7 linked regions of the Homo sapiens genome follow. The protein of the gene in region 1 interacts with the protein of each later gene in a pairwise test. Each region holds a gene or a part of one and is shown in the gene's direction. Other genes may lie near its edges. The genes, in order: ATF2, ATF3, FOSL2, VRK1, ZDHHC17, LHX8 and BACH1.

Region 1 (4,223 bases):
TGCTTATGTATTTTATTTTTTTAAGATTTTCCCCTCCCTTTAATGTAAGTTAAGAGCCTTCTGATGAACTTAGATAGACAAACCCTTTGGGTGTGAACAGAAGAGTCACATTTAGATTTGACCTACTAATTTAGTCATGATGGACTTAAGCTAATACATGTACTTTACTTACTGTAATGTGATTTTTGAGATCTTTTGGGAGGTGGGAATTAAGGGATAGGCTAGAAACTAGTAAAATTATGATATAATAGAGTCCTTTTAGTAATTCTGATATTACTAACAGTGCCTGAAACAGGCCTGCATTATGTCTAGTTTTGTATTACAAGTGGGTCATTTTAGTGTGAAATATATTTGTACATAGTAAAAATACTAGTCCTCTAGGTATACATGTGGGGGGCAAAGGTAAAATAGGAAGTAATGCCCTCTGTGGGGACATAATGGTTAACAAATATGTAAATTTTAATCTTACAAAAGGAATTAGGAGTATTTTCTCTTAAACCAAGAGTCTTCCTTAGTAGAGTACTTTTACTTCACTTAGGCTAGATCCCTGCTATAGCCTGTAAAATTGGTGCTCTAAAATATATTAAATGTGAATAGAATTTGAATGTGCTACCAACTCTAATCAATATGAATAGACACCCTTGAAAATAGTAACACTAAATAGGCAGAATTTATAAGTTTCTTGCTTTTCATTCAGTGTAAATCTTACCTGGCATTTTTTGTAGCCTATACATGGACACTGAGTACCTATGTTAATGTACATAGTAGGAGTACATATTCGAGTAAAGTTGAAATGTTTCATGTTGTAAGAAAATAGAGTAGACTCTTTCTTTACTCCTTAGGAATTAAGCTAGAACATTCTGGAGGCATGTGACTCACACATATTCCTTGTACCTAGCTTGTAAAATGCATTAAATTAGAAAATTAGTTTCAGTAGATAGTGGTAAAAAGAGGGTTTGTTGTTTTAGGGCTGTTTTAACTTTTTTTTTCTTTCTTACAATATTTTTATCTACCTATTAAAGATTGTTTTATCTTAGTTTGCTTTCATAATAGAGTATGAACAGCTAGTGGAAGAACCAAGTTAAAGCAGATATACATGCTCTTATCCTAGTTTTCCCCAAATTTCATTTATTTAAATAATTGTAGTTTTTAATAATGTAAATTTAAAAAATTCTTTATACTGTGTTAGATAATAATAGTTTATCTCTTGAGTAGAGGATGTTTATGCCATTCTACTCAGAAAGAAGCAGTGGACTAAGGAGCAAAAAGGACTTCTTTCCTACTTTCATATTTCATAGTTCTTAAAGTTGGAGGAAATACGAAGTACAACAAAAATTTAACCAAATTTTGTTTGTTTTAAAGGAAGAGGTCTTTCCAAAGAGAGAATTAACAACTGACTGAACCAGTCCTGCTAATTTGTTAACTTAGTAGCTATATTTTAGAGTCTTAACATATTTAAATATGCATGATTACTTCTTGACATTTATTTCAGATCAGACCCCAACACCAACAAGATTCTTGAAAAACTGTGAAGAAGTGGGTTTGTTTAATGAGTTGGCGAGTCCATTTGAGAATGAATTCAAGAAAGCTTCAGAAGATGACATTAAAAAAGTATGTTGTAACCATGAAATTTAAAAAGAGTACTTCTGACAGAAAAGTAATCATAGTTTATACTTCCTGCTTTTTAAATTTAGACACACTGTTTTTGAACTTATAACCTTTTCCTTATTATTTGAATTATAGATGCCTCTAGATTTATCCCCTCTTGCAACACCTATCATAAGAAGCAAAATTGAGGAGCCTTCTGTTGTAGAAACAACTCACCAGGATAGTCCTTTACCTCACCCAGAGTCTACTACCAGTGATGAGAAGGTTAGAAATTTTTAGAAATACAAAGTAAGGGGGAGGAACAGTACCCAAATAAAGTTTACTATTTAATCTCCATAAAATGTTAATGTATTAAATTCAGTGTCAGCTTGCAATAGTTTTATATGTGAAAGCCTGTCAATACTCAGATATTTCAGGGTAAGAAGACTGCAGCTTTTATTGTACATAGAAAAATTATAGGGGAGAACAGTCATGTTACATAAAACTTATTTTTAAAAGATATATAAATTTATAAATTTAACTTAATTTTTCTGTGTTTTGCTATTTTATATTTAGCTACTTTTATACAGTAACAGCTTAATTAAGAATCTATTCAAAAAATTATTTGAACAGTGGTTTTTTAGACTTTTACAGGATTAAGGGACTAGTTACTCATTCTCAGCAGTGGATCTTTGTTAGCGGCAATTAGGACGATGATGATACTAGCTTGAATACCCAGATAATCTGGGACCACCTGGGCTACAGTTGTGTGTTGAGTAACATTATTATGGGAACTTCTTGATCACTCTTTTGTTCACAAGCACATAGAATAAGCACATATTTATTTGGGAGTACCATGCAGGACACAGCGAAGGGCAATGGGACACATAAAGAGGCAGTGGCAATATTCTTTTTTAGATTGTTATTCTAAAACCATACTTATTAATGGACTTCTGTCATGGCAGAGGAGCTAGAAATAAGGAAATACAGAAAAAATAACTTTTTGGCTAAGAATAAATGCTTTGTTTTCTGTTTTTTTTTCTTCATTTTCTTTTTCTCATTTTAAAAGTACATTCTCATTCTTCTTCTCTAAGAATACAGAAACATGAAAAGAAAACCAAAATCACCTATTAGCACATAATTGAATAAGAATTACTATCTTGAAACATTTTTTTCTAGATATATACATTTATAGGTACAAATACATAAGTGAATAGTTAAATAGAAGGATAGATGGATATAAAGATCCTAGCTTTATTTTATATTGTGCTTTAGACCCTCAGTATTGATGAATATTTTCCCATGTCATTAGAGAGTTCCCCAAATCATACTTTTTAATGATTGTACTTTATTTTATTATATGATATGTATATGTATTATGTTATCCTGTTCTTTTTGGACATAAAGGTTGTTTCCACATTATTACAGTTATTGGAAATGCTTTTTAAATCTCTGATACAAATCTTTTTTCCTAGAGAGCATTTCATTCTTTTCACACTTAACAGTTTTTCATTGTTCGTGGCTGCTTCAGCATCTTTTAGGAGTATTCCTTCTTTCTGCATTCCCCAATCATTAGGCCCTCCTTGAGCAAGGTATACCATATGAAATTGATTTAAAAAAAAAAAAATCTGGACCTCTTCTTCTTTCTTGATTTTCTTCCTAGGTGATCTCATCCAGGCCCATAACTTTAATAAACATCTACATACTGATGACTCCCAAATTTCTATGGGCATAGGTATCTCACCAGATTGCCAGATTTATATCCAACTCCATCTTGACATTACCTTTTCTATGTCTAATAGACATCTTAAACTTAATAGGTCAAAATCAGAGTCCTTGATTCTTCCCCCAGTTTTCCCCATCTCAGTAAATTTTCTCCATCCATTTAGTTGTTCTAGCTGAGAATTTAGGGGTCATCCTTAATTTCTTCTTTCTTTTACACTGAAACTAACAGCATATTTTATCAGACCTGAATCTCATCCTCTATGTCTGTGTTCAGTGACACCACGTAAGCCCAAACCATCATCATCTTTTGTTTGGATTATTAACAGTTACCTTCTAACTTGTCTTCCTGCTTCTACCTCCAATCCATTTTCTGTAAGATGACTTTTAATACATTAAATATGTCACCTGCTTAAAATCTTTCAATGGTCTACCATTGTATTTAAAATAATTCACACTCCTTGGCATAAGCCCTCTTTGATCTGGGCCTGTCTACGCATCTATCCTTACCTCATGCCTCTCTATTGTGTTCATCAAATATTCAAAGCTTTTTCCTACCTCAGGACATGACATATATGGTATTGCTTCCTTCTCCCTACAATGAAATGCTCTCCTCCTCATCCTTTTATCATCAGTTCGAATGCTGTTTTTGCAAAGAAGCTCACCTATTCTTACTATGCTGTCTAAATTAACTGACTCTTCCTTACCTTCAGCTAATCTTTCATCCTTTGTTACATTGCACGTATTATTCTGTAACACTTAACATTTACTACAATCTGAAATTTTCTTACTTGTTTTACTTGTTTATTGTCTCTTCCTTGAGAGCTAGTCCTTGGGAGCATAAGTTCTCAACTTACTGAATAAATGAAGTTACAATACTACTACTTTATCCTTCTTCCTATGTAGCTTAATAA
Region 2 (4,223 bases), on another chromosome or scaffold:
AGAAATGCTGGCATCAGCAAATAGTGGGGTGAAACCTACCTGGTCTGTGAAGAACTTGGGGTCAATGAGAGTACAAAAGAGGCTCTGACTGACCTGAATGTCTTGAAGGTTCCAGTTAATTCCTCACTAACAGGGCTTTATTGAATTGATAACAACAGAATGAGTTTTTCCTGAAATGGAGAAGATGGAGTCACAGTAGTAATGACTACCCGGTGTGTATGTAAATCTCATATGTCCTTCTCAACAGCCCTTTGGGGAAGGCAGTTTTGATCTCAAATTACAGAGGAAGAGAATGAGAGGCCCAGAAAGCCTAAGTGATTTGTTGGTGGATGCTCAGCTTATGAGTGGCACTGATAGGCTTAGAAACATTGTCTCTGGCCCTTGATGCCCAGCTTTGCACCTCTTCAAGAGGTCTGGGAGGAAGACCAAGATATGAAGAGTTAGTGAAAGGCCAGTACTGGCTTCCTAGTAACATAAGATGGTTAGCAAGCAATGCTTAGTGGAAAGAGGATGAAAATTAAAAGTGAAAATTCAATGTAGCTGTAGCTACTAGGAAATAAAAATCTGGGAGCTGAATTTCCAGTTAAAGGAATACATGAGTAAACTTTCACTTTCTTGAAAATGATGAAACTGCCAATGATACAACATGATTTCTGATTGGAAATAATCAAGCAGAAACAAAATGCAAGTTCTTGGTAGCAAGTCTGAACAATTTTATGATCAGCATAGAAAGTCAACTCTGATCTGAGGTCCCCAAACAATTTTTTTCAATGACCGGGATGTTTGAGGATCTCAACTTTCTGAAAAATTGTGTGAAGATTTAACTTCATTTCCTTGTGGGGACACAGCCGTAGTCTAGGCTGAATCATACCTCGAGAGACTGAGTAAAGGAATAACTAGAAAGTATCCCGAGAAGTTAAGCTTTAGCCTAGTGCCGAGAAAACCCAAATCTCGACAGATACATCTGTTTTATTTTCTGAAAGGCTTTTAACATTTTTACAACCATTTATGTCCCCAAGGAAGCCCACCCAATGCTTTTCATAAAAGCATTCCATACCACTGACATTCTTCAGCTTCTTTCATTGGGACTGCTGACTTTACATAAGAAGAAGGGTAGGGGGCGGGAGTCATAAACAGCAGACCCCAAGCCCTGAGAGCTCATTAATAAACCTAGTTGGATGGCAAAATGGAACTACACTCTACTGCAGTGGAATTCAAAGTCCCCGTGTAGAAGGGAGCCATCCAGGCCTCCAAACAAAGACCAGCCCAGTGGCAGCTCTGAATGTCATCCCCGAATCACTGAGTTTTTAATAAACTTGGAAAGGGAAGGGAAACATGAATGCATGGGAGAATCTTAAGCCTCTGGCTTTAGAAGGCTAGTTTCTCAGAGTTTATTGCCTGACAGCGACAAGTATCCTCCCAGCATCCTAAGATTATAGGATTAAATTGAGAGAAGAACTTCAGTTCTGACTCATGACACAGGGCTTTGGGAAAAGAATTACATACATAGCCTGGGTTTCTTTGACTAGTCAAGGGCAGATTTCATTGGCCTGGAAGTCTTGCCTCCATTGGTGTATGTTAGATCTCCAGGGGGAGTTTGAAGTCAGGGTATTCTATTCAGAAGCCTTTGAGATCAAAGTGGGTGACCAGCTGCCCTCCTTCCTGGACTCCACAGAGCCTCTGTCAGAGAGCCAGCCCTGGGCTGGAGAGATCTCTGGGAGGCCTAGTAATCATGGAGCTCCTGGCCAAAGAATGTTTTCCAGGGCATATTCATGTATTAGTTCCTCAATTCCTCATAGGATATTATGGGAAAATAGGGCGATTATTACAAGCCCTCTTTAACAGAGGAGAAAAAGCCACGGGGAGGTACAATGATAACACATAATGGAGTAAGTGGGCTTCAAATCTTCATCTTCTGACCTCAGTCTGGGAATTTTGTGGATAAGAGACCCACTTGCTCACACTCCCAGAAGGCAGTTAGCAAGCAGCCTGGGTATGCACCGTGACATAAAGATTAGCAGTTCATTAAACAGAGTTCAGTTTATCCCGAGGAATCTTTACTTAGCCTCCCCTCTATCACTTCATTTCCAGGCCTCCCACCTACCTTAAGGCCTGCCCCGAGAAAATTTGCTCTGGTTTTTTGTTTGTTTGTGCAATATAACATAATGCTTGTTTGTTTTTGTAATGTAGAATAATATTTGTTTGTTTTTTGCAATGTACAAATTAAGGGCATGAATCCTGGAGCCAAACTAACTTAATTCCAAATCCTGATGCTGCCCCATATTAATTCTGTGAATTCGGGCAAATGACTTAGTTTGTCTAAACCTCAATTATCTCATCTATAAAAGGCAGCTAGATCTTAACTCACTGGGTTCTCGTGAGGATTAAATGAGATAGTGCCCCTAAGGTTTCTGGTATGAAGGAGGCACTCCTTAAATGTTCGAGACTTGCCAGAGGGCTTCTTCTCTGTCTGGACTGTGCTAATGACCACAGATCCCCGGTTGAGAGGAATGCCCAGACCACACTCATCCTACACTCATCCCTATACTCATTGTCCCTTGGGAACCAACTGCAGGGAGGAGGGGAAATGGCCACCACTGGAGGGAGTACACAGCAGGCCAAGACTTATGGGGGACTCTTCCAAATTGGGGCCATGGAACTGTCACTATTTCTACTCTTTATTTTCCTTTTGTCATCCTTTTGGGTTCACCGAGCTATAGAATAACAGAGGGAGATGAATTTAGCAAATACATCACTGAAGCTTCTCCCTCGGAAGTTGGGCCCAAGCAATGGGAATGAGAAAGGTAACCTTGGACCGTGGGGGCCATTTGATTTGATGACCCCATCCCCACTTCATTTATCAGTTGGCCAATGAGGCATGGCGAGTCAGGCATTGGGCCAGGCTCTGGGTAAAGCAATGGTGGAGACTCAATGCTTGCATTGGAGGAGCTGTCAGTCATTTACCAGACACAGACTGGGTCCTAGAGAGCTGAAATTACTAGCTCAAGTCACTGCTGTTTAGTGCCAGAGCCAGCCCCAGGGTTCCCTGCCCCCACACCCAGCCTAAGTCTATCCCTATACCACAGGCCTGAACAACTCCCCCACAATACAGTGCCTCACTTTTCTTTAAGACCTTTTGCTTTGCCAACCTTAACCTTAAGAATCCACCTCCCCATCCCCTGCCAAAGACTGGGGTGAAGAAACGCACCTGGCTACAGTTACCTTTCTCATTCCCATTGCTTGGGCCCAACTTCGGGGGAGAAGCTTCAGAGATGTATTTGCTAAATTCAAGGATTCCCCACTTTTTGCTTTTACTTCCACTCACTGATAGTTTCAGCTTGACGTCAAGCCTCTTTGAAAAAGAGGCTTTTTTTTTTAAGTGAAAGAAACTTTATTTTGAGTAATATACAAAAAAAAAAAAAGAGAGAGAGAGAGAAAGAAAAAGAAGCTGAAAATGAGATTACTCATGATTTTTAAAATGGCCTCACTGATTTTTAAAAAATGTTCTTCCTCTTTCAGGACTGTTTGTGGCCACATTTGCACATAGGCACACCAGCCAAAACTCATAGATCTTGTGAATTCAGAGTAGCCTGAAACATCATCCCTTATAAATTTCAAATAGGCATTTTGTTCATGTCACTGAGCTATGTGTATTTTAAGAACCTGCTTTACTTAAGATGAGGATGGCATGAAATGAAAACAAAACAGAAACCCAAGGGCTTATGGGACTTTTCTCTGAGGGTGGGGCTCTGGTGTTGGAGGTCTGGTGGGGGAGGGGGACTTGATCCCATGCCCCAGAGCCCCTGAAACAGTTTGGGTTTCAATGTGTCTTTCAGCAAAATGATGCTTCAACACCCAGGCCAGGTCTCTGCCTCGGAAGTGAGTGCTTCTGCCATCGTCCCCTGCCTGTCCCCTCCTGGGTCACTGGTGTTTGAGGATTTTGCTAACCTGACGCCCTTTGTCAAGGAAGAGCTGAGGTTTGCCATCCAGAACAAGCACCTCTGCCACCGGATGTCCTCTGCGCTGGAATCAGTCACTGTCAGCGACAGACCCCTCGGGGTGTCCATCACAAAAGCCGAGGTGGGTTCTATCACAGGTATTCATTCTTTCGGCACATGTTTCGCTCGCAGCCACTGTGTGTTGGGCATGTTCTAGGCAGGGGGCTGTTGTTGAGAGTGAAACAAACAAAACCACTGCCCTCAGGGAGCTTACCTTCTCCTGGG
Region 3 (4,223 bases), about 150 Mb from region 1:
CTCAGTGGGGATGTGATGGGAGGTATGAGACAGATTGTGCCCTTATCCTTTTCTCTTCTTGGGAGCCAATCTTCTAGGATGTTGGAATTGTCCCTTTTCCATCCTGGGAATCTAAAGAAAGGGTTCTTAAAGGGAAAGAACCCAGTCCCTTCCTAGATACACTCAATCATACCTGCTTGCCTGGCAAGGCAGTTTACAGAGTCCACAGGGCTTCATGGCTTGAATGCTTGATAACCCAGACAAAAATCTATCTGATGGAGAATCGCCTGGCCAAGGGGCTGGGCCAAGAACCCCAACCCTGACTTCCATCTCACATACCAGTTCTGCCCACTCACGAGTCTCTGGGATAAGCCCTCGGCCCCATCCGGTCCTGTAGGGGCCCAAACCCTAGTTCCAATACCTGTCAGCAAAAAGCCATGGGTTCATAGCTGAAGCCAAGGCTCCAGTATAGAGTCTCAGGAGGCAGTTTTCCCAAATCAGCAACTGTTGTGGGGGGAACTTCTCTGACCTGCTGAGGTTTGGTGGCCCTAGAGGGTCCGTGTTTTCGGCCGTCTTTCTCATTGGCAGTGGAAGGAGCACACGCATCCTTCCCAAGCAGCCCGGTGGCACCCTAGCAACAGGGTACAGCAGGGTGATGGGAGTTTCCATGCCCAAAGACCACAAGGCTTGTAAGGGTTTGAACGTCGGCTCAGGGTCTGGAGGTTCAAGCTGATAAGTGAGAGCCCGTCTCCTCGGCTACCTGGGTTGGAGGAACATCTCAGTTCTGACTTTTTGCTTTCTTATTTCCTCTGTATTCGTTTCCCTCCAACCTGAGCATGGGAGATGAGAATGAACCTCTGGGACAGGGGTTGGCAAACTATGTCCTGAGTATTTTTCTAAATAAAATACAGTGGCACAGTCCTGCCTATTTGTTTACATGTTATCTAGGGCTGCTTTCGCACTGCAGTGGCAGAATTGAGGTGCAGCCAAGACCGTATAGCCCACCAAGCCTAAAATATTTGCTGTCTGACCCTTCACAGCAAAAGTTTGCTAAACTCTGCTCTAGGAGGTGGATGGGGACCACTATATCCTTTTATAGGCATTCTTGCCCACCCCGCAGTTGACAGGGTGACACAGTGAAATATTTGGAGGCTTTGCCAGGCTGGAATGCTACATAGGCATCCAGCATCTTCAAAGTGTCCTTGAGGAGGACATGTTGGCTACAGAGCCCCAGGCAGCCGAGTGAGGTTTTGGGTTACCTCTCCTGATCCCATCACTCCCAGCACACTCCTGGCATGCATGCAGCAGGTTTGAAACTGCCCTGTAGCCCCCAGCTGAGCAGCTCTATCTTGGTTTGTGTTTAGTGTTAACTCGTCCGTAGAGAACCACGATTTATCTCCAGTGTGACATGTGGCTGATTCTCGGGTCTATTGGCATAGAAGAATGCTAGGCTAACTTCTGGGACCACAAACTCCTAACTTCACCTCTTCTCTCCTACCCCAGTGTCTGAATAACACGTTTCTGAATAACACGTTTCTGAATAACATGCTGGGAGTTGAGACAAGACCCATCTGCCAGATCTAATTGAAACTTTTGTGTGTCTCCAAGAGAAGCTCCTCTTGGAGACAAAAGCCTTCTTTATCAGAGCCCCGGGCCCCTCTGGGGATGGGACATTGTTTTCCTTGCAGTTTAGAGCCAGTGTATTATCCAGATGGCTTTGCCTCCTGTCTGAAACAAGGTGTACATGCGTTTCAGAGGCAGTCATTACCTCCTGGCTGGTTTTTATTGCTGTCTTGTTTTGTCTAGACCAAGCCATTGCTGCGAGGAATCTGGCTGATGTATACCGGGGAGCACACACCACGGACCTGCCCTCCAGAGCGGGTGGACTAGAGGGCCTCAGAGGGGCTAATAGGCATCCACTTATTCTGAAGGGGTCTTTGTCCCTCAGCTTTGCTTCAGATTTTCTGCTGGGTTCCCCAAGCCTAAAACGGGAGCACTTTTATTTGTTGGAATGAGGAGTGACTTTCTTAGGTGCTTTCCTAAAAGGAAAGCTGACAGCTTCCCCATGGAGGAGGGAGTCATATCAAACCATTGTGCTGAATGCCTCAGGTGCATTTCAAACCCAGAACCTGGCTTGGGGAGAGAAATGGAATTTAAAAGTTGGGTGCTTCCCAGGAGTGGGTAGCTGGCACTTCTCCCCAGAGCCTCCTGGGCAGAGTACACAGGCACATCTAATGATGATGGTGGTGGTGATGGTGACCTTCCATTGGTTTGGAGCAATGTTTCTCAACCCTGGCTGCACAACAGACTCTCCTTGGGGGTTTAAAAAAAAAAAAAAAGCTTATCAGAGCCCTGCCCCAAACCAATTATTTTAGAGGTCTAATGGCGAGGCTCTGACATTAGTGTGTTTTTTACAAGCTCCTTGGAATATTCTAATGTGTAGCCAGGGTTGAGAACCACTGGCGTGCTTTTATAGCCTGTGATTACAAGTAGCTACTCATTTAATCCTCATGGCAGTGCAGTGAGTTTGATGAGTATTCCCCTTTACATCCATGGAATTGAGTCCTTGAGCCCAGGGCAAGGCACTCAGTGGCTAAGCCAGGCCTCAACCCCATGCCTCCTGACCCCGAGTGCAGTGTTGACTCCCCGCCCCTCCCATCCAGCAGCTCAGGAAAAAAATAGCTGTCTGGGACTTGGTGCTTCTACACACACTCAGCCATGCCTGCTGTTCTCACGACTCTGCCTACTCACAGCCCAGCCCCAATTGGCCATTTTTCCTCCTTGAAGATCATTTCCCACTTGGATGCTTTCCTGTTCACTGCACTCTTCCCTCCTTCATATGCACACACCTGCTGCTTTTCAGTCAGCGCCTGATAAAAAGCCCACTTTTCTTTGCCTTCAGAAATGCAACTCAGAATCTATCACCCTGGGCAGCTCTCTTCACGGGATCCCAGAATCCATTGTACTGGGTAACTTTCCTCCAGTATCCCAGAACCCATTGCTCTAGGCAGCTCTCCTCCTGAATCTCAGAATGATGCATTGCACCGGATAACTTTTCTCCAGAATGCCAGAAACCATTGTTCTGTGCAACTCTCCTCTTGAATCTCAGAATGCATTGTACTGGGTAACTTTCCTCCAGAATCCCAGAACCCATTGCTCTGTGCAGCTCTCCTCCCGAATCCCAGAATGCATTGTGCTGGGTAACTTTCCTCCAGAATCCCAGAACCCATTGCTCTAGGTGGCTCTCCTCCCGAATCCCAGAATGCATTGCAATGGGTAACTTTCCTCCAGAATCCTAGAACCAATTGCTTTAGGCAGCTCTCCTCCCAAACCCCAGAATCCATTGCACTGGGTAACTTTCCTCCAGAATCCCAGAATCCATTGTGCTGGGCAGCTCTCTTCACTGAAGCCCTTGGCCTGGGCCCCCGAGGTGGTCTGGTTGATGAGGCAGCCGTTCCAACATGCAGACTAGGGTCAGGCAGATAGCAGGGAATTGAGCAAGAAGGGGTCCCCAGCTCTGTCAGCTGTAGTGAGGTACTCTATGTGTTATTTACACAGCAGGAACCCTGATGTTGTGACAAGGCAAAGACAATGGTGGTGCCAGCTTCCATTGCTGCGAATGCTTCTATCCTAGTTGGTCTGATTGGACCAGCATAGGGAGGGTTCTACAGCATCCATGCTAATGATAGTGGGGTTCCATTCGGGGCCAGACAGACCTGTGGTACCTTCTTTGTGAGAGGGGAGGTCTATAGGGGATGACCTGACACTCTGTCTGAGGGCAGTGGGGGTGGATAACCAGCACTTAGGGCTGGATTTTGAGGAAGAAAGCAATGGAAAAGGAGCTTGTATACCACTGTGTTCAGGGGCTCTGGCCTCTTTGTCAGGCTGGACTGGGTTTGAATCCTGACCCCGCTGCTTATTAGCAATGTGGCCTTGAATAAGTTACTTAATCTCACTAAGCCTAAATTTCTGTCCCTAAAATGGAGCTAATGGTCGTTCTTCACTCAGAGAGAGAATTAGTGAGATAATCTAGGTAAGCCATGGTGTCTGACATTTAGTAAGTGCCCAGGAAGTGTTGTTAGCTATTGTCTTCATCTCACCCAGTTTTTAAGTGGGGAAGAAACTACTTGGAGAAGCTTTATGTGGACACAGGAGTCATCTGAAGATGAAGGTTCACCTGGGTTCCATTAGGGGGACTTGCCTCTGAAAAGCTGGAAGTAGGGGGCTCTTCTCTCCTTCCCGCT
Region 4 (4,223 bases), on another chromosome or scaffold:
CAGGGTTATTTTTCGGAGTAAGGAGAAATGGACTCATTTATTCAGCAGAGATCACGTGCCCCCTATTTACAAGGAATTGTGCTAGGTGCAAAGTCTATTGCTATTGTAGTGTTTTGCTGAAGCAAGTTTTCTTTGTTTTAAATTAGTGTACGTCTTTTTTTTTTTTTTTTTAACTTTATCTAGCATCCAGCACAGAATAATCCAATAAATGTGTAGGGCGCCTTTGAAAAACTGCACTATTAATGTTAAAATGTAGAAAATGTTTAATAAAGGTACAAGATTAATTTAAAAGGGTGATAGAACCCTAATAAAACATTTAGGTAGGTGTTGTAACCAAGATGTATTTTTACTCTAGGATAAGTTTGGCTCTTTTGATCAAAATTCCTGTGAATATATTTCTACTTGCCATTATAAAGATGCAGAGGGCTCTGTCCTTTGAATTTTTTCCCTTTGGTGCTTGAATGATATTTAAGCACCCAGCATTCTGAAGTTGCTGTTTTGAAGTAATTTCATGCACTTTCCCAATTACTCCTGCTCCATCTCTCCCAATGTTGTCTTAAATCTTTGCACTCAAATTCAAGCACATCCTACTCCTCCTGTTCTGAGTGACATATGGGCAACACTTTAAAAAAGAAAAGCTCTCTAGAAAATCTAGAGAGGTACGAGCGATGGCCCTTCTCCCATATTAGGAGTTAGATTTTTAGTATTCATCAATAAATACTGATGAGAAGAAACTGCTCTACTTTTACCAACATTCTTCAGGAAATTTATTAAGATTTTTATTAGCCACAGTATCTTTGTCAGCTTGGAAACATATATGTTTGTGAATCACATTTATTTAGTCTTTAGGTAAGTATATGGATTTTGATGATTCTTTGCAGTTACTCCTATCTCTCTATGGGTTTCTTGCCCATAGGATGGGAACCAGTACTCTAGGATTTGAAAATTAAGGTAGATACTGTTCACACTGGCAAATATTTAAGATGAATATTAAACGTGTATACTAAAATGTTTATTGGTAAGTAATTCATTAAATGGGAAGATATACTAGATGAAGTAAATAATTAAATTGCAAGCACAAGCAAATTAAATTTGAGATTTGGGAATGGTCTGTCATATACTTTTAAAGCAAATATCATACTGATAATGGAAGGACACGTGTCTTGTGGAGCTCAGTATCAGGAACAATATAGTTGGTCCTGCAGGGGACTAAACATGAGAACTGAAAGTCATTAGGAACACGAGCAGCCTCATTCCACTGTTCCAGGGACCTTATAATTTCTTTCTGTGTATTTATTTTATTTTCTTTTTGAGGACCGTCTGTCTGGCTGTTTGTATGTCGGCAGATATGTCTGCTCTAGACTTAGATACTTGCTTTAAGAATCCAAAAGAGATTGCATTATCTAATTGTCATTTATATCTAAAATTAAACAAACCATGAAGTTAGACATAGCTAAGATAACCACAGCTTTATTTCAGGTTAATTGCTTTTCTTAGATTGTTTTTATCAAGTGACAGCTAAAGAAAAGTCATCATTTGATGACACTAAGTATTAGTGCATTGTGATTGCGTTTCACAATATTAAGTGTTAGAAAGAACTATTAGACCTTAAGTATTTATAGAATGTGTCTGGAAGACACAGGGAGAGAAACTGTTAATGTTTCTACTGTAGTCTTTAGAGTTGCTTTTTTCACATCTTATTGCAGTTTACTATGTAATTTGGCAACAGCTATCAACATAGAGATTATATGTAATTACAGTGTACCCTTGAACAACTCAGGGGTTGGGAGTGCTGACCCCCATGCAGTTGAAAATCCATGTATAAGCTTTGACTCCTCAAAAGCTTAACCACTCATAGCCTGTTGACCAGAAGCCCTACCAATAGCATAAACAATTAACACATATTTGTATATGTACTATATGCTATATTCTTACAATACAATAAGCTAGAGAAAAGAAAATATTATTAAGAAAACCCTAAGAAAGAGCAAATATATTTATTGTTCATGAAGCGGAAGTGGGCCATCTTAAAGGTCTTCATCCTCATTGTCTTGGTGTTGAGTAGGCTCAGGAGGAGGAACAAGAGGAGAGGTTGGTCTTGCTGTCTTGGAGTGGCAGAGGCAGAAGAAAATCTGTGTATAAGTGGACCTGCACAGTTCACACTCATGTTGTTCAAGGGTCAGCTGTATGCATTTTTTTCTTAGAGGTAATCTGTTATTTGGGAATCAGGAAAAAAGTTTTAAAATTCATTTTTTAAAAATAAGTTCAGGTTATAACATTTAAGAAGTTTAATCTTGTTTTTTCAGACTTGCAGAAAATACTTTAGAAATGCTGACTCTAAAATTTATCTTTCATATGTTGCTGGTAGGAATGTAAAATGATATAACCACTCTGGAAATTAGTTTGGCAATTTCTCGAAAAGTTAAACGTACATTTGACACACAATCCAGCGATTGCACTCCTGAGCCTTTATCCTAGAGAAATAAAAACGTTCACAAAAAAACCTGTACATGAATGCTCGTAGAAGCCTTGTTTATAATAGCTAAAAACCAGAAACAACTCACATGTCCTTCAGTGGGTGAATGGTTAAATAAAATGTGATAGTCTTGCGGTAGAACACCACCATCAAAAAAAGAAACAAACTGTTGGTTCATGCAGCAACTTGGTTGGAGTTTAAGGGCATTGTATTGAGTGAAAAAAGCCAGTCTCAGAGATTGTATGATTCCATTTATATAGGATTCTCAAAATGACAAAATTATAGAAATGCAGAACAGACCGGTTTTGCTGGGGTTAGGGCTGACTTTCTTTGAGATGATAGAACAGTTCAGTGTCTTGTTTATGGTGATGGTTACATGAATCTGTACACATGACACAATGTCCTAGAATTAGACACACAAAAGAATGTAAAAGCTGACATTTCAATAAGTAGTTCAGTGATGAATATTGTATTAGTGTCACTTTCCTGCTTTTGATAATTGCACAGTGCTTGTCCATTTTATGGCTGTATCACATTTAACCATTTACCCATGGAAGGCCATGTGGGTTGTTTCTGGTTTTTGGTGATTGCAGGTAAAGCTGCTATGAACATTAATGTACAGGTTCTTTTGTGACTGTAAGTTTTAATTGTTCTAGAATAAATATCTAGAAATTCAACTGCTGGGTCATATAGTGATAAAACCTTGAGCCCTCTTATTCTGTCCCAGGTGGGGTGTAAATCATCCCTTTGTCCAGCATATCCACACTGTATACACTACCCACCAGCTAGTTAGTCACTCTTGGTTATCAGATTGACTGTCTGGTGTCTTGGTGCTTGTGTTTGAGAATCCCTTATTGTACTTAGTAGTGACCCCAAGTGCAAGACTAGTGATGCTGGCATTTTTTTTTTTTTTTTTTTTGAGGCAGGTCTCTTATCTTGTCCCCCAGGCTGGAGTGCAATGGTGTGATCTCAGCTCACTGCAACCTCCGCCTCCCAGGGTCAAGCGATTCTCTTGCCTCAGCCTCCCTAGTAGCTGGGTCACAGGCGCCTGCTGCCACGCACCGCAAATTTTTGCATTTTAAGTAGAGACAGGGTTTCACCATTTTGGCCAGGCTGGTCTCGAACTCCTGACTTCAGGTGATCCGCCTGCCTCTGCCTCCCAAAGTGCTGGGACTGCAGGGAGTGAGCCACCGCATCTGGCCGCTGACATATTGTTATAATTACTCTTAGTATTGTTGTTAATCTCTTAACTGGCTCCAATTTATAAATTAAGCTTCATCATAAGTATGTCTATCTAATGTATGTATAGGAAAAAACGTATTTATGTAGGGTTCGATACTCTCCATACTCTCCACCATTTAAGGTATCCACTGAGGGCTTTGGAATGTATCCCTCACAGATGAAGGGGGTGCTGCTGTGTTTGAGAGATACAGTTTCTCCACAACCTCACTACCATTTGGTATTGGTGATATTTTTTGTGCGTACTGGTATCTTGTCATGGCTTTAATTTGCATCCTAATGGCTGATGATTTCATGTGCTTATTTGCCATTCATATTTTTTTTGGTGATTTGTCTGTTCAAGTCTTTTACCCGTTTTGTGATTGGTTTGTTTTCTTACTGATTTTAGAGCATTCTTTATATGTTGTGTATACAAAATCCTTTGCCAAATATATGATTTGTAAATATATTCTCTCAGTCTCTGGCTTGTCTTTTCATTCTCTTAACAGTGTCTTTAGCAGCAAAAAAG
Region 5 (4,223 bases), on another chromosome or scaffold:
GACCATGTCTTGCCTATTCTGCAACTATTCTAATTTCAAGTTTCTATATGCTACTATTCAAATCTTTGTAGTTCCTTGAGTACCTTCTTTTTTACGTGATTTTTTTGGCATTTTTATTCTTTTTTTTTTGTAACTTAAAAATTATTTTTCTTTTCCTTATTCTAGAACAAAAGAGGTATTTGATATAAAATTCTGCTAAATATGTTTTTTAAACAACCACAAAAGATTATTTATTTTCAAAGGTTCAAACTAGCATGAGATCTGAAATAGAAAACATGTATTTACATATTTTTCACAAAATTTCTTAAAATTGAAAATGAAAGTTATTTAAATTATTATAAATTTTGTCTTATAGATACTATATTTCGAAAGGTGCTATTGTGGATCAACTTGGAGGGGACCTGAATTCAACTCCATTGCACTGGGCCACAAGGTTTAAATTTGCTTCTGGATTTTTTTCCTTTGGTTCCTTTATTAGTATATAAATAAACAACTTTAAAAAAATGATATACTAAAATGAATAGGAGAGCTTATTATGCCGTTAGTTAATATCATAAATATGCTGATGTTTTATTGTGAAATATTACCTGTAAAGAAGCAAAAGTTTATTGTCCAAAGTTTCCCTGGCCATGCTGATATTAATTCAGTTAGTTATAAGATTGGATTAAACTTTGGATTTCTAAACGTAATATTTTTGCAGCCTGTATATATTTACAATGAAAGAATTAGCTCATTTCTTGGGATGATTGAGATAATATTAGAATGGACATAATAGAATATAGTAATTATTTACTATATATTTAAATAAGTTATGAGTACTTCCATACATTTTCAGACTGTTAATCTAGTTAAGACTTCTAAGAACCATAAAATCCTAAATGTATTTTGACATGTATCTATTTTAAAATAACTTTTCAAAATACATACGTAATCTTCCCACCATACCTTACTTGAAAAAGCTCTTCCCAGAGGATCCTGTTTGAAATAACTTTATATATCTAAGTGTTTATTCTTTTATGTTTTAGACAAGGCCATCTATCCATGGTTGTGCAACTAATGAAATATGGTGCAGATCCTTCATTAATTGATGGAGAAGGATGTAGCTGTATTCATCTGGCTGCTCAGTTCGGACATACCTCAATTGTTGCTTATCTCATAGCAAAAGGACAGGTAAAAAAAATCTCAGTGGTATGGATTTTAATCAGATGTTCTTCATAGTTTAAATGCCTAATATTATTGGTGTTGTAACAAGCCGTTGATATTTAAATAGCACTTTCTGATGGGTGAAGAACATAAATATAGTGAGTTTGATATGGAGATATTTAATGTACCTAACATAAAAGCCAGCATGAAAATCATGAACCAGATAATGATGAAGTTGGGTTTTTTATTTCTAAGAGTAATGGAGATAAAGCTCAGAAATTAAGAGAGAAAATATAAGTATCTATTTTTTCTTTATGTATTTTGAATATATCATCTGAATTCATCCAAACTTTTTTGAACTTATTTATTGGTTATTTTATATATTAAATATCTCTTGAGAGGGATACATTTTTTAAGATCAGTTTCTGCTGTATAAGATAATGCTGCTTCTTACTTGTCAGAAAAACATCATATTTTAAGTGGTTGTTCCTGATTTTTCTTGAGTGTGCAGTGACCATAATCACATTAAATATTACCAGTTTATATAATCATGTTTTTGTAATAAACGTATTTTGTTAAAAGTAATGTCACCCAGTTTTTCTTTAGTGTGTTTTTTCTGGTTATATTTGAACATTAATTTTATAAGTAAGGATCTCATCACAAGAATAACTTTAAGATATATGTATTTAATTTGTTGCTATCAACATGTATTTATTGTTAATTTAAAATTCTATGCGGATTTAGAATTTGAATACTATTTCTTTTAATGAAGGTTTTACAGTATTTGTTGTTGGCAGTCTCAAGCAGTGGCAGTTGTGTTGTGCATTATAGTTTAGGAAAAGAGGCATAGACTGATAAAGTTAATTGCTGGAAGGGGAGGGGGGGTTATTGTCTGTTACTGTGTTAAAAAACTACTGCCAAAATCTAATGGCTTAAGAACAATACCAACCAATTAATACGTCTCACAATTTTGTGGGCTTGGCTGGATGGTTTTTCTCCTTGGCTGGTGGCTGCAGTTGTCTGGCGGCTTGACTGAGCTGGAAGATTGGCTCACATATCTTGTGACTTGATAGGAATGGCTACAAACTGCTTAACTGGGAGGCTGGGGCAGCGAGGCCTCTTTCTTTCTCTATGTAGTGTCAGAACTTCTACTTTTCAATACCAGTCCATGTGGTCTTTCCAGCAGGAGAACTAGACTTCTTACATATTGGCTTAGAGCTCCCAAAAGAACAAAAGTAGAAGCTGTTTTGCATTTTTAAGTCTTAGGTCTTGAACTGACACAGCAACGTTTTTTCTCCATTCTATCAGTTAAAGTGAGTTAACAAGGGCCATAACCACCCGGAGGGAAGGGACCACACAAGGGTGTGAATACCAAGAGGCCAGGTTTATGGGGGGTCATCTGGAGAGCAACTGCTATAGGAGATTATTCTTGTTATTCTGCAGTTTTTTTCTAGAACAAACGTTGAAGCAGTAAATGGTGCTATAGCACATCACAAGGTCTTTAGTGGCCTTCCATATTGCAGAATAAATCTACAATACACATTCACTTTTTTACTTTCAGTTTTTAACTGGGAAAGAAAGGTGGTGTACATTTTTGAGTCTTCATGGTCTTTTTTTTAACTTATTGATTTTGGAGTTTGGATTATTTCATTAATCTTTTTAACCTCTGGTATAGTATATAGGCTATAAAATTCTCAAAGGGCAGGATTTCTACCTGTCAGTGCTTTTGGTACAAAAAGGGCATGATGATGATAATGATGATGATAAATGTCTGAGAAATAGTTTTTTTTTTCCATGAGTAAATTTTTTTTCTGCACACAAAGATAATAAATGTTTATTATGAAATATTCAGGCATAATAGAATATGACTTAGAAAATGAAATCTCACCTCTCCCCTTGGCCATCTGCTGACTGAGGTTACTTCCTTTAATAATGTAGTATGTATTTTAAGAGATTTTATTCCATGTACAGATTAAGCATCTGTAATCTGAAAATCCGGAATGCTGCGAAATCCAAAACGTTTTGAGTGTCAACATGATGCCACAAGTGGAAAATTTTACCCCTGACACCTTTGCTTTCCAATATAGTTCGTTGTACACACACTTTGTTTCATGTACAAAATTATTTAAAATATTGAATAAAATTGCCTTCAGGCTGTATGTATAAGGTGTATATGAAAGATGAATGAATTCCACATTTAGATTTTGGTCCCATTCTCAAGATTTTATTACATATATGCAAATATTTCAACATAGGAAAAACATACACATATTCAAACACTTCTGGTCCCAAGCATTTTACATAAAGGATACTCAACATGTATACACTAATATATTGTAAAAGACACTCTTCCAATGTGCATTGCATCATACTGTGAGGGCCCAGAGTTTTTCTCTGTGCTAGAGCACTGTGCCGTTTAACCCCTGGATACCTTTGAGCTCCACTTCTGCCATCTCCCCATCATCACTCTGCTTTAACTGCACTAGTTTTTTTTTGCTACTTTTTCAGCAACTCTGACATGCTGTTGTCTAAGGGCCTTTTGGTTGCTGTTTCTTCTGCTGGTATATTCTTTCCTCAGATAGTCACACAGTTTCTCTCTCTCTCTTCAGTCAGATGGTTGCTCAAATTTTATTAGTTCTGATTACATAGTTCCTAATTATAAGCAGTAATAAAATTAGCATATTTTTATTTCTTCTTCCCTTTCTCTTTTATCGACTGTAGTCAATAATATTGTTTTTCTTAATGTTAACTATGTTCTGATAAATTTTTACTACATTTTTATTACTTGATTTTTCAGCTTTAGATAGTTTTCTTTGATTCATGGCTACTATAGATGAGGCTCTCAGCATATTTTCATTTCAACCTTTTTCCATTTTCCCATTTTGTTGTTAATTATATCAATTTTACATTGTCAGGGTATATAACATTTCCATTCAGTTTTGTCATTCTATTCTTCACAATCGTTTTGTTTTAGTTATATTGTTAAATATATTTAGTGCTCACTACCAATTCTTTTGGATGATTTTCAGGAGAAAAAGGGGAAAATGCTAAGTTATGGAGCCCTGTTGATCATGGAATTC
Region 6 (4,223 bases), on another chromosome or scaffold:
GTTTCACCATGTTGGTCAGGCTGTTCTCAAACTCTTGACCTTGTGATCCGCCCGCCTCAGCCTTCCAAAGTGACGGGATTACAGGGGTGAGCCACCGTGCCTAGCCGGAAAATAATTTTAAATAACACCGGAAGTTCAAAAAATTTAAGGAGTGAAAGCAAGTAACCATAAAAGGCAAGAGGAAACTCAGGGAGGGGAAAGGCAAATGTCTTCATTGCACATATTTTATTTTGTTTCTTAATTTGGGTGGTTGATACATGGGTACTTATTCTTCTGTAAGCCTAAAGGTTTCATAATTAACAAATCACCTGTACGAAGAAGCAGATGGAAAAGACCTGATGATACTGCAGCTTCTCTAAAGACCTAGGGTTCACAGTGTTTTAATTGACTGCAAGGTAATGAGGCTGTCTTAGGAGACAAGTTCTACCACTTCAGCACTTTCAGATATCCAGATTATTGTGCTTATTTCAGAGTGCCAAATTTTAAGAAGGGACTAATAAGCAATCTGAAAAACATACTACCTCAAAGGCTACCAGGGTTGTGAAAGATTTAGATCATGCCATAATATTAAAGGCAGCAGGGATATTTATCTGGAGATAAGGCCAGGAGATGGTAAGAGAAAGAGTAATATCCAGAGTAGGTGTCTTTAAATATTTGTGAAAGGCTTCCCTGCAACGGAATGTAGAAAAAGGCACTGGTGTTCACTCATAATGAATTTTCTCATTATTGAAAGGCTACACAAATGGCACGGACTACCAAGGAAGGTAGTGAGTTTCCTCTGCCTGGGAGAACAGTTTTCTTTGGCAGGTAGTTCCGACTCCACGGGCTAAAAGTTCCTTCTAATTTAAGACTCTGTATATTCATAACAATGATAGCTTCAGGTAAGTCAGATGCATGACTTATATCATTTTGAAGTTGGAAGCAAAGAAGAAGGAGAGTTTTCTTAGAGCTTTTCATATTTGAAGGACTAAGGAACACAGGCAGACATCTGTCATGTAATTTCCAGGCATTTAGGTTACTAGTACTATGAGCAAGTTAACTTTGTCCTAAGCCCTACCATTTGGAGAATATATTTTGAATGTTGGCTTTCAATATGTTAAGGTTGAACATTAAATATTTTTGATATGATTCCAAAGGAAAGAGTACTAGCATGCTTATGTGTTTATTATTTGTATCTATACATAGGCTCACTATATGTTGTAGCCCTTCAGAGTATTTTATAAGAATTACTGTGATCTCAAATAGTAATCATACTTTCCCTCAGCCTCCTTCCTAGCATTGGGCATAATATTTTAGAAAGGTAAGAAAAAAGAGTTTTTATTACTAGACTTCTTCTAATATGCAAACTAGGTCACCCAAAGATTAGGAGGAAACTGGTGTGATACGTGGAGAGTTTCACGTTTCCTAGTTACAAATATGCTTAGTAAGACATTTGTAATAAAGCAGACTGTCCTTATACTGAAGTCAAAGAATAAAGATGAGTGATTTTTTTCCCCACACACTGCATCCAGATACAATCACTGTTCACATACTCTTTCAGATAAGTGAATTATGATTTTTATGTTGTGCAGAGACAGAGTAAACTATTGCTATTTCTTCCAATCAGTGTACTAGGAATACCCTTCCATATTAACATCATATTTATTGCCACATATATTGAGCATAGCACAATTTATTTAGCTTCCAATTTTTCACTATTATAAAATGCTGCCATGAGCAACATTGTATATCTACCTTGCGTGCTTGTTCAATAGTTTCCTCAGGATAAATTTCTGGAAGGGAGATTGTTGAGTCCAAAGATAAAACATGCATAGGGCCTTTATACAAACATGAAATCTCTTTGCCTTTGAGAAAGTTCATACAACTTTATTCTGCCAGGAGCTACGTACAAGAGTTCCTTTTCCCCAACTCAGAAGAATCCTGAATACTGTTACTCTTTTACATCCTTTACAATTTAATAGTTAGAAAAGAAAATCTCATTGATTTTATTTCTGTTTCTTATATTATCAATGAGCTTGAACAAATTAGTTTATTTTTTCATTTTTAAGACCGTATGTTTTTAGCTCACTCTTCTGTTGGGTTATTTTCTCTATATCTTACTGATATTTATTAATCCTATCTGTCATGTTAACCTTTCACGGTTCATCAATTTCCTTTTTATTTTTTCCACACAGAACATTTATATTTCTATGTGTTTAAATCTCCCAGTCTTTTGATAGTTTTGGCCTTTTTTTTTGTTTTGTTTTTCTTTTTTTGAGATGGAGTCTCACTCTGTCACCCAGGCTGGAGTGCAGTGGCACGATCTCAGCTCACTTCAACCTCCGCCTTCCGGACTCAAGCGATTCTCCTGCATCAGCCTTCTGAGTAGCTGGGACTACAGGTGCGTGATACCACACGCAGCTAATTTTTGTATTTTTTGGTAGAGACGGGGTTTCACCATATTGGCCAGGCTGGTCTCGACTCCTGACCTCGTGATCCACCCACCTCGGCCTCCCAAAGTGCTGGGATTACAGGAGTGAGCCATCACGCCTGGCCTTTTTGTTTTGTTTTGTTTTGTTTTTTGAGATGGAGTCTTGCTCTGTTGCCCAGGCTAGAGTGCAATGGTGCAGTCTCAGCTCACTGCAACCTCTGCCTCCTGGGCTCGAGTGATTCTCCTCCTCAGCCTCTCGAGCAGCTGGGACTACAGGCACCTGCCATCATGACTGGCTAATTTTTGTATTTTTAGTAGAGATGGGGTTTCACCATGTTGGCCAGGCTGGTCTTGAACTCCTGAACTTGTGATCTGCCACCTCGGCCTCCCAAAGTGCTGGGACTACAGGTGTGAGCCACCACGCCGGGTCTAGTTTTGGCCTTTCTTATGCTTCCCTATCTAGAGAGTATTTCAATGTTGCCTTTTGTTTTCTTAAACTTTTATTGTTTCAATTATTTACGCCTAAACTTTAATTTATCTGGCTTGGTTCATGGGAGATAGGGTTTTATCTATTTTTTTCTCTCTTTCAAATGATAAACTATCAGTTTTCCCTAAATCAGTGAAACATGCTTTCCCAATAAAATAAAATCCCATCTTTGTCATATACAAAATTATTATATTTGGCTTTTTGTCTGGGCTTTCTAAAGGTTTCATTCTCTGCATTAGTATTTTGCTTTTCCATTATATCTACATGGCCTGATTTTAGCTTAGTTTATGATTTAGAAGTCAAAAAATTTAAAGTAGTTACTCAGAAAATGTTAACTCTTGTTGGAGGTTTGCAAACAAGAAGGAGGAAATTTTGTCAGTGAGGAGAGTCAAAAGGACTTATACTTGATTCTGAAGCTGGGTAGCATTCATGCCAGAAGGAATTTCCTGATGTCTGGAATCTTAAACTATATTTTGCTCTACCAGTTAGTTACATGATACTTTGTTTTTGCAAACCTCCTTCTGCTTGATTACCTGTGGATGATCTTTCCAAGAAGCTGCTTAACAAGATAGTTATTCTGCTGTTTATATTATACCTTCTTCATGTTTATTTACAAAGTTTGAGTGTTTTTTTTTTTCAATCAAAAGATGGTGTTTCTTTTGTTTTACAACTGCATAGGTTCCATTCAATATATAACTTATTGGAGACAAAAAGATACTTTGAAGAAACTCTGGGAATCATAGTGCAACATGTTTTAGGTTATATGTAGTCCTCTGGCGTATGTGTCTTCTGGGTCCCATAAGGGAAAAAGGCCGGTGGCAGTGGTTCCCCCTTACACATTGGAGAATGTTTGAGTAATGTCATCCTATTTGGGTGAGACTAGTGTTAGTAGTGACATCTATTGTTCCAGAGCCTGTGGGCAGAACTGTGGAGTTTGGGGTGTGGTCTATAGGTATCTCTGAGTCTCACTAACACTCCAGAGAACAGGGATGTGGAGGAGGCTGTGACTTCCCACTTGTCTTACTGGTGGATACCTAAGTCTTGTCCCAGAAACATTCCTTAGCTGCTACTTTTCAGCCTCCTGCTCAAGGCTATATACCCCACTAGATTATTAATTTTTTATTCTTTTAGTTTTAATCACTCTTGAGAGTATACTTTGCCAACCTTCTATTTTTGAATGCCAGGGGCAGGGTGTAGTTCTGAAGTAAGGCCAGCTTTTTCTTATAAATTCTTTGCAGCTTCCTTTTATTTCACATTAATCAGCCCTGATTGCCTTGTGCCATCAAGGCCCTACCACCAGCCTTGAACAGACTTATGCCCCTGATG
Region 7 (4,223 bases), on another chromosome or scaffold:
TGTGTATTTTATATTTAAATATTATTTTAAAAAATGTACAGTGGTTATCTGATCTTGGCCCAGGCCTCTTCAATTTCCAGTGTACCTGATGTCTCTTTATCAACTGTTTTTCTGAGGTGTATCTCAGCCTGGCCTTGGGTACTCCCCTAGGTAAGAGTCATAATTCAGGTTAAAAGAGGTAAGAAAAAAAAAAGCTTTTGGCTTTTGTAATCTTGTTTTTTTTTTTTTCTTTCACATTAGCAAAAGACTGTTGAAGTAGAGAGCATTTTGCCCAGCTCACTCGGATTCTTTGCTGGCATGCCTTCAGTTTCAGTTGTCATCCAGAGAAGTCAAAGGAAATGCTGCTTGGGGATGAGCATGTAATTACGATTAACTTTCCCTACTTCGTTGTCTCTTTGTGGTAAAAGACTGTCACAAGTGCTATTCAAACTATAGGTATTTTTTTTTAGATTTCTAAAAAGTATATTTTGTCTCTGAGGGCCTCCTGTCTTTGGACTAGTTTGTCTTTTTCCAGACCCCAGAAAGGCTGGGCCACCTTTTCTTCTTTGAGCAGGTTGGCAACAGTGGTCACAAATAGCAGAGGAGCTGAGATTCTAGAGAGCTATCCTACCACTGCTTCTCAGATGCCAGTGTGGAAACAGCCTCTTCTTTTTTGTTGAATTAGCTTGGAACAGCTCTCTAATCTCTGAAGAGTGAGGAAAAACTGTGTTTTTAAGTTTCAAGGCTAAGGCACTGTGTTCTCTTTTCTCCCTGTTCCTGCTGCTGTTCTCCCCCAACTCACATGAACGCATACTTAACTTTCAGTGTATGTGGACAGTAGGGTTGCTAAATTCATGTCAATATTTGTGGCATTCCTACATGTTAGGCATTTGGTTTACATTTAACTTATGAAACAAATGTTTAGGCTTTTATAAGCCAGGAACTTTTCCAGATATTGGCAATAATGAACTTTTCAGAAGTTACAGTCTAATAGACAGGCAAACTATTCCCATAGCATGCTATAGTAGCAACATGTAAAATGTGCTGTGGAACCACAGACTATTAAAAGCCTAAGTTTTGGGAAATCAAGAAAGCCTTAGGGATGTTTAGTGATGAATGCATAGGTTAGTGGAGGAAACAACTTGTATCAACTCAATTTGAGAAGCTTAGCTGTGAATAAGAGGAGAGAGAAATAGATTTTAGTAGGGAGAAGTTGGGTCAGGAAGAGTGTGTGTGTGTGTGTGTGTGTGTGTGTGTGTGTGTGTGTGTATTTAAAAATCCAGTCAATGGAAAAAGGTTGAAGATGCAGGCAACGTCCTTGTTTTGTCCTTGGCAAGTTCCTCTTATGGTTGCAAGATGGCTGCCACAAGTTCAAGTGTCACAAGAAAATATGACTTAAGTTTCCTGGAAGAAGACACACTTTTTTTTTTTTTTTCCTAGGTTGTTGCTATCAGTGAGAAAAATTTTTCCCTAAAGCCTCATAGCAGATGCTACCTTGTCCCTCTCTCCTCTCTTCATAGGTCAGCATTGCACACAAGCCAGTGCCTAAATGAGTCAAGGTCAAGGGGAATAGTACCGCTGTGATTGGCATAAATGGATCGTGATTCATCTTAGGTTGTGGCTGGGGTCTACTTCCTTGGAAGTTGATGGCCTCGGGTTGAGAGTAGATACGTGAGCACAGTCAGGGTTTGGTTAGAAAGTGAGGGGGTGAATGGTGTTGTGCAGTTAACAGTGACATCCTTGTCTACTAGTTCTGCCACCACTACACTTAGATACAAACTTCGGAGGAGAAAAAGAAAATGTGCTTGCCTTTGGATTTGGAATTTTAGGTGACTTTTTTTCCTCTTATATGCCATTTCCTTCTATGATCAAGTAGCACTTTTACAATCAAATCAAATCAATGGTTTATTTAAAAATTATTTAAAAATTGAAAATGCCAATTTTGTCAATAAATATATATAGAAGAAATAATTTTTTTTTTCAATGCTTTAAACATTTCAAAAGTTCCCTGCCATTGTCTTATTCCTTTCAGGGAGAGGAGAACATATAATTATATCTTGTAGTTTCTGATTATGTGTATACTAAGAGGACTACTCTGTCCCTCAGTCCATAGTGCACACCCACCTGTGGTCTCTATGGCTTGCACTGAGTGCTGAGGCCAGCCTGGCTCAGATAGAATTGTTAGTTCATTGGCTAGATGGGTCAGGATTCTTTAGAATGCAAATTCTTGAATCAGGAGTACAAACAGGAACATCTTCCCTTTTCTACACACTCATTCCCCTCCTCGAAGGGAAAGCTGTCCCGTAGTTAGCTTATTCGTCATTCTTTTCAGACTTTAAAATTAATGCCACCTTAAGTTTATACAGTATTCTTGTAGTACTCCTAACTTTTCTGTTTTGCTGTATGTGTACATTGTAGAAAGATTAAATCAAGCTAATTAACATGTCCATTACCTCACTTACCTTTGTGTGTGTGTGTGTGTGTGGTGAGAACCTTTAAATCTACTCTCTTAGCAATTTTGAAATACAGTAGGATCCCCACCCACTGTTTTACTTTCAGCAGTTTGTTACCTGTGGTCAGATGAAGTCCAAAAATATTAAATACAATAGATATTTTGAGAAAGAGACAAACATCACATTCACATAACTTTTATTACAGTATATGGTTATAATTGTTGTATTTTATTATTGTTAATCTCTTACTGTGCTTGATGAAAAAGCATAGTATATATATAGGGTTTGTTACTATCTGCAGTTTCAGGTATCCACTGGGGTTCTTGGAATGTATCCCCTGTAGATAAGGGGGACACCTGTGTATGTTGTTACAAGTATGATCACTGTGTAAAAGCACTTTTGTATTTCATTCTTGTTCCTTCTCAATCGCAGGTCTGGGTGCTTTCTGTGCTGTGAAAGGCAGACAAATAATGTAAATCCTAAACACTTGAGTGTTGTAAATTTACAAAATGAGAATTGCTCAATGGTTGTTTCTTTTTGAGAGTAACAAATAGACTGTGATAAATGGCCAGAGTAGGCTTCTGAACTGGTATTAGTTTTTTGGATAGAATTTAGAAAGACTTGTACTACCAATATAATTTTTGTCTCAGATAAATGCAATAGTATTTCCCTACTCAGTAGTTCCTCAGATGCTATTTAAACTGAGCTATATTTCAGCTTTATTTATAGGCTGCAAATTGTTCCTTATTTGGCTGAATCTTGTGGTTATGATATAATGAAAAGTAGTTACTGAGATCACTGGTGCAAATCTGTAGCTTGGAAATCCTCATTTTAGAAATGATTATTTTGACTCCCAAGTTAAATAGTAAAAAATAGACTTATGTTTTTAGTTTTAGCTATGTATATTGAGAAACTGTGGCCCTACGGTGGCTGTTAGGGATTAGTGGATTAGGTTGTTTTTAAATAAGACATTTCAGTTTAGTATCTCTACTTGAATAAAACAGTTTCAAATTTGTGATTCATATGATATACTGATTGCCCTACGGTAACTTCTGTTTTATTTAATTAAAATTGTTAACATTCTTTTTTATACTCTTAAGCACCTCCCTCCACCCTCACCCCCCTTTTTGACTCAAATTTTATTGTGAGTTGGTGTATAGTTAGGAATTTGAAGAGCACTTTTTTTGTTTATTTTATCTTTTCGGTTACTATGCATACTATGTGTGTCAACTCTTAAACCTGCAGGGGGTCATTTTGGCCATCAACTAGTTTTAGGGCTTTCGCCTCCTAAAGAATATGAATTATGGTTGTAATTTTTACAGTTTAAAAAACAAGATGGCATATGAAGAATCTTTATTTCATTATGAAAATAGAACATGGATGCTTAATCCTCTGTATTGAAAGTAACTTGTAGTGAAATACTTCCTAGTGTTCTCTTCTTCTAGTTGTCCATATGTAGTATGTATAACTATAGACCTTGATGATTTAAGTTGAGCACAGTTTAGTGTCAGGTTCCTTTCAGTGATGCATGAGATTGGTTATATGATCTAGTGAGTGTTATTTAGAAATTAATTCACCAGACCCGGGTGTGGTGGCTCATGCCTGTAATCCCAGCACTATGGGAGGGCGAGGCAGGCAGATCACCTGAGGTCAGGAGTTCGAGACCAGCCTGGCCAACATGGTGAAACCCTGTCTCTACTAAAAATATGAAAATTATCTGGGCGTGGTGATGCTCGCCTGCAATCCCAGCTACTTGGGAGGCTGAGGCATGAGAATTGCTTGAACCTGGGG

Evidence for each region.
Region 2: the proteins of ATF2 (region 1) and ATF3 interact in binary tests that used the Homo sapiens proteins (3 or more experiments, as listed by UniProt).
Region 3: the proteins of ATF2 (region 1) and FOSL2 interact in binary tests that used the Homo sapiens proteins (3 or more experiments, as listed by UniProt).
Region 4: the proteins of ATF2 (region 1) and VRK1 interact in binary tests that used the Homo sapiens proteins (3 or more experiments, as listed by UniProt).
Region 5: the proteins of ATF2 (region 1) and ZDHHC17 interact in binary tests that used the Homo sapiens proteins (3 or more experiments, as listed by UniProt).
Region 6: the proteins of ATF2 (region 1) and LHX8 interact in binary tests that used the Homo sapiens proteins (3 or more experiments, as listed by UniProt).
Region 7: the proteins of ATF2 (region 1) and BACH1 interact in binary tests that used the Homo sapiens proteins (3 or more experiments, as listed by UniProt).

The regions. Positions count from the first base shown.
Region 1 is NC_000002.12:175,115,639-175,119,861, reverse strand, and holds part of ATF2 (cyclic AMP-dependent transcription factor ATF-2), read left to right. Parts: intron 1-1,492; coding exon 1,493-1,611; intron 1,612-1,743; coding exon 1,744-1,872; intron 1,873-4,223. UniProt on the Homo sapiens protein: Transcriptional activator which regulates the transcription of various genes, including those involved in anti-apoptosis, cell growth, and DNA damage response.
Region 2 is NC_000001.11:212,611,182-212,615,404, forward strand, and holds part of ATF3 (cyclic AMP-dependent transcription factor ATF-3), read left to right. Parts: intron 1-3,836; 5' UTR 3,837-3,840; coding exon 3,841-4,080; intron 4,081-4,223.
Region 3 is NC_000002.12:28,398,936-28,403,158, forward strand, and holds part of FOSL2 (fos-related antigen 2), read left to right. Parts: intron 1-4,223.
Region 4 is NC_000014.9:96,799,794-96,804,016, forward strand, and holds part of VRK1 (serine/threonine-protein kinase VRK1), read left to right. Parts: intron 1-4,223. UniProt on the Homo sapiens protein: Serine/threonine kinase involved in the regulation of key cellular processes including the cell cycle, nuclear condensation, transcription regulation, and DNA damage response.
Region 5 is NC_000012.12:76,808,688-76,812,910, forward strand, and holds part of ZDHHC17 (palmitoyltransferase ZDHHC17), read left to right. Parts: intron 1-355; coding exon 356-433; intron 434-1,025; coding exon 1,026-1,170; intron 1,171-4,223. UniProt on the Homo sapiens protein: Palmitoyltransferase that catalyzes the addition of palmitate onto various protein substrates and is involved in a variety of cellular processes.
Region 6 is NC_000001.11:75,150,869-75,155,091, forward strand, and holds part of LHX8 (LIM/homeobox protein Lhx8), read left to right. Parts: intron 1-4,223. UniProt on the Homo sapiens protein: Transcription factor involved in differentiation of certain neurons and mesenchymal cells.
Region 7 is NC_000021.9:29,304,964-29,309,186, forward strand, and holds part of BACH1 (transcription regulator protein BACH1), read left to right. Parts: intron 1-240; exon of another isoform or gene 241-359; intron 360-4,223. UniProt on the Homo sapiens protein: Transcriptional regulator that acts as a repressor or activator, depending on the context. Binds to NF-E2 DNA binding sites. Plays important roles in coordinating transcription activation and repression by MAFK.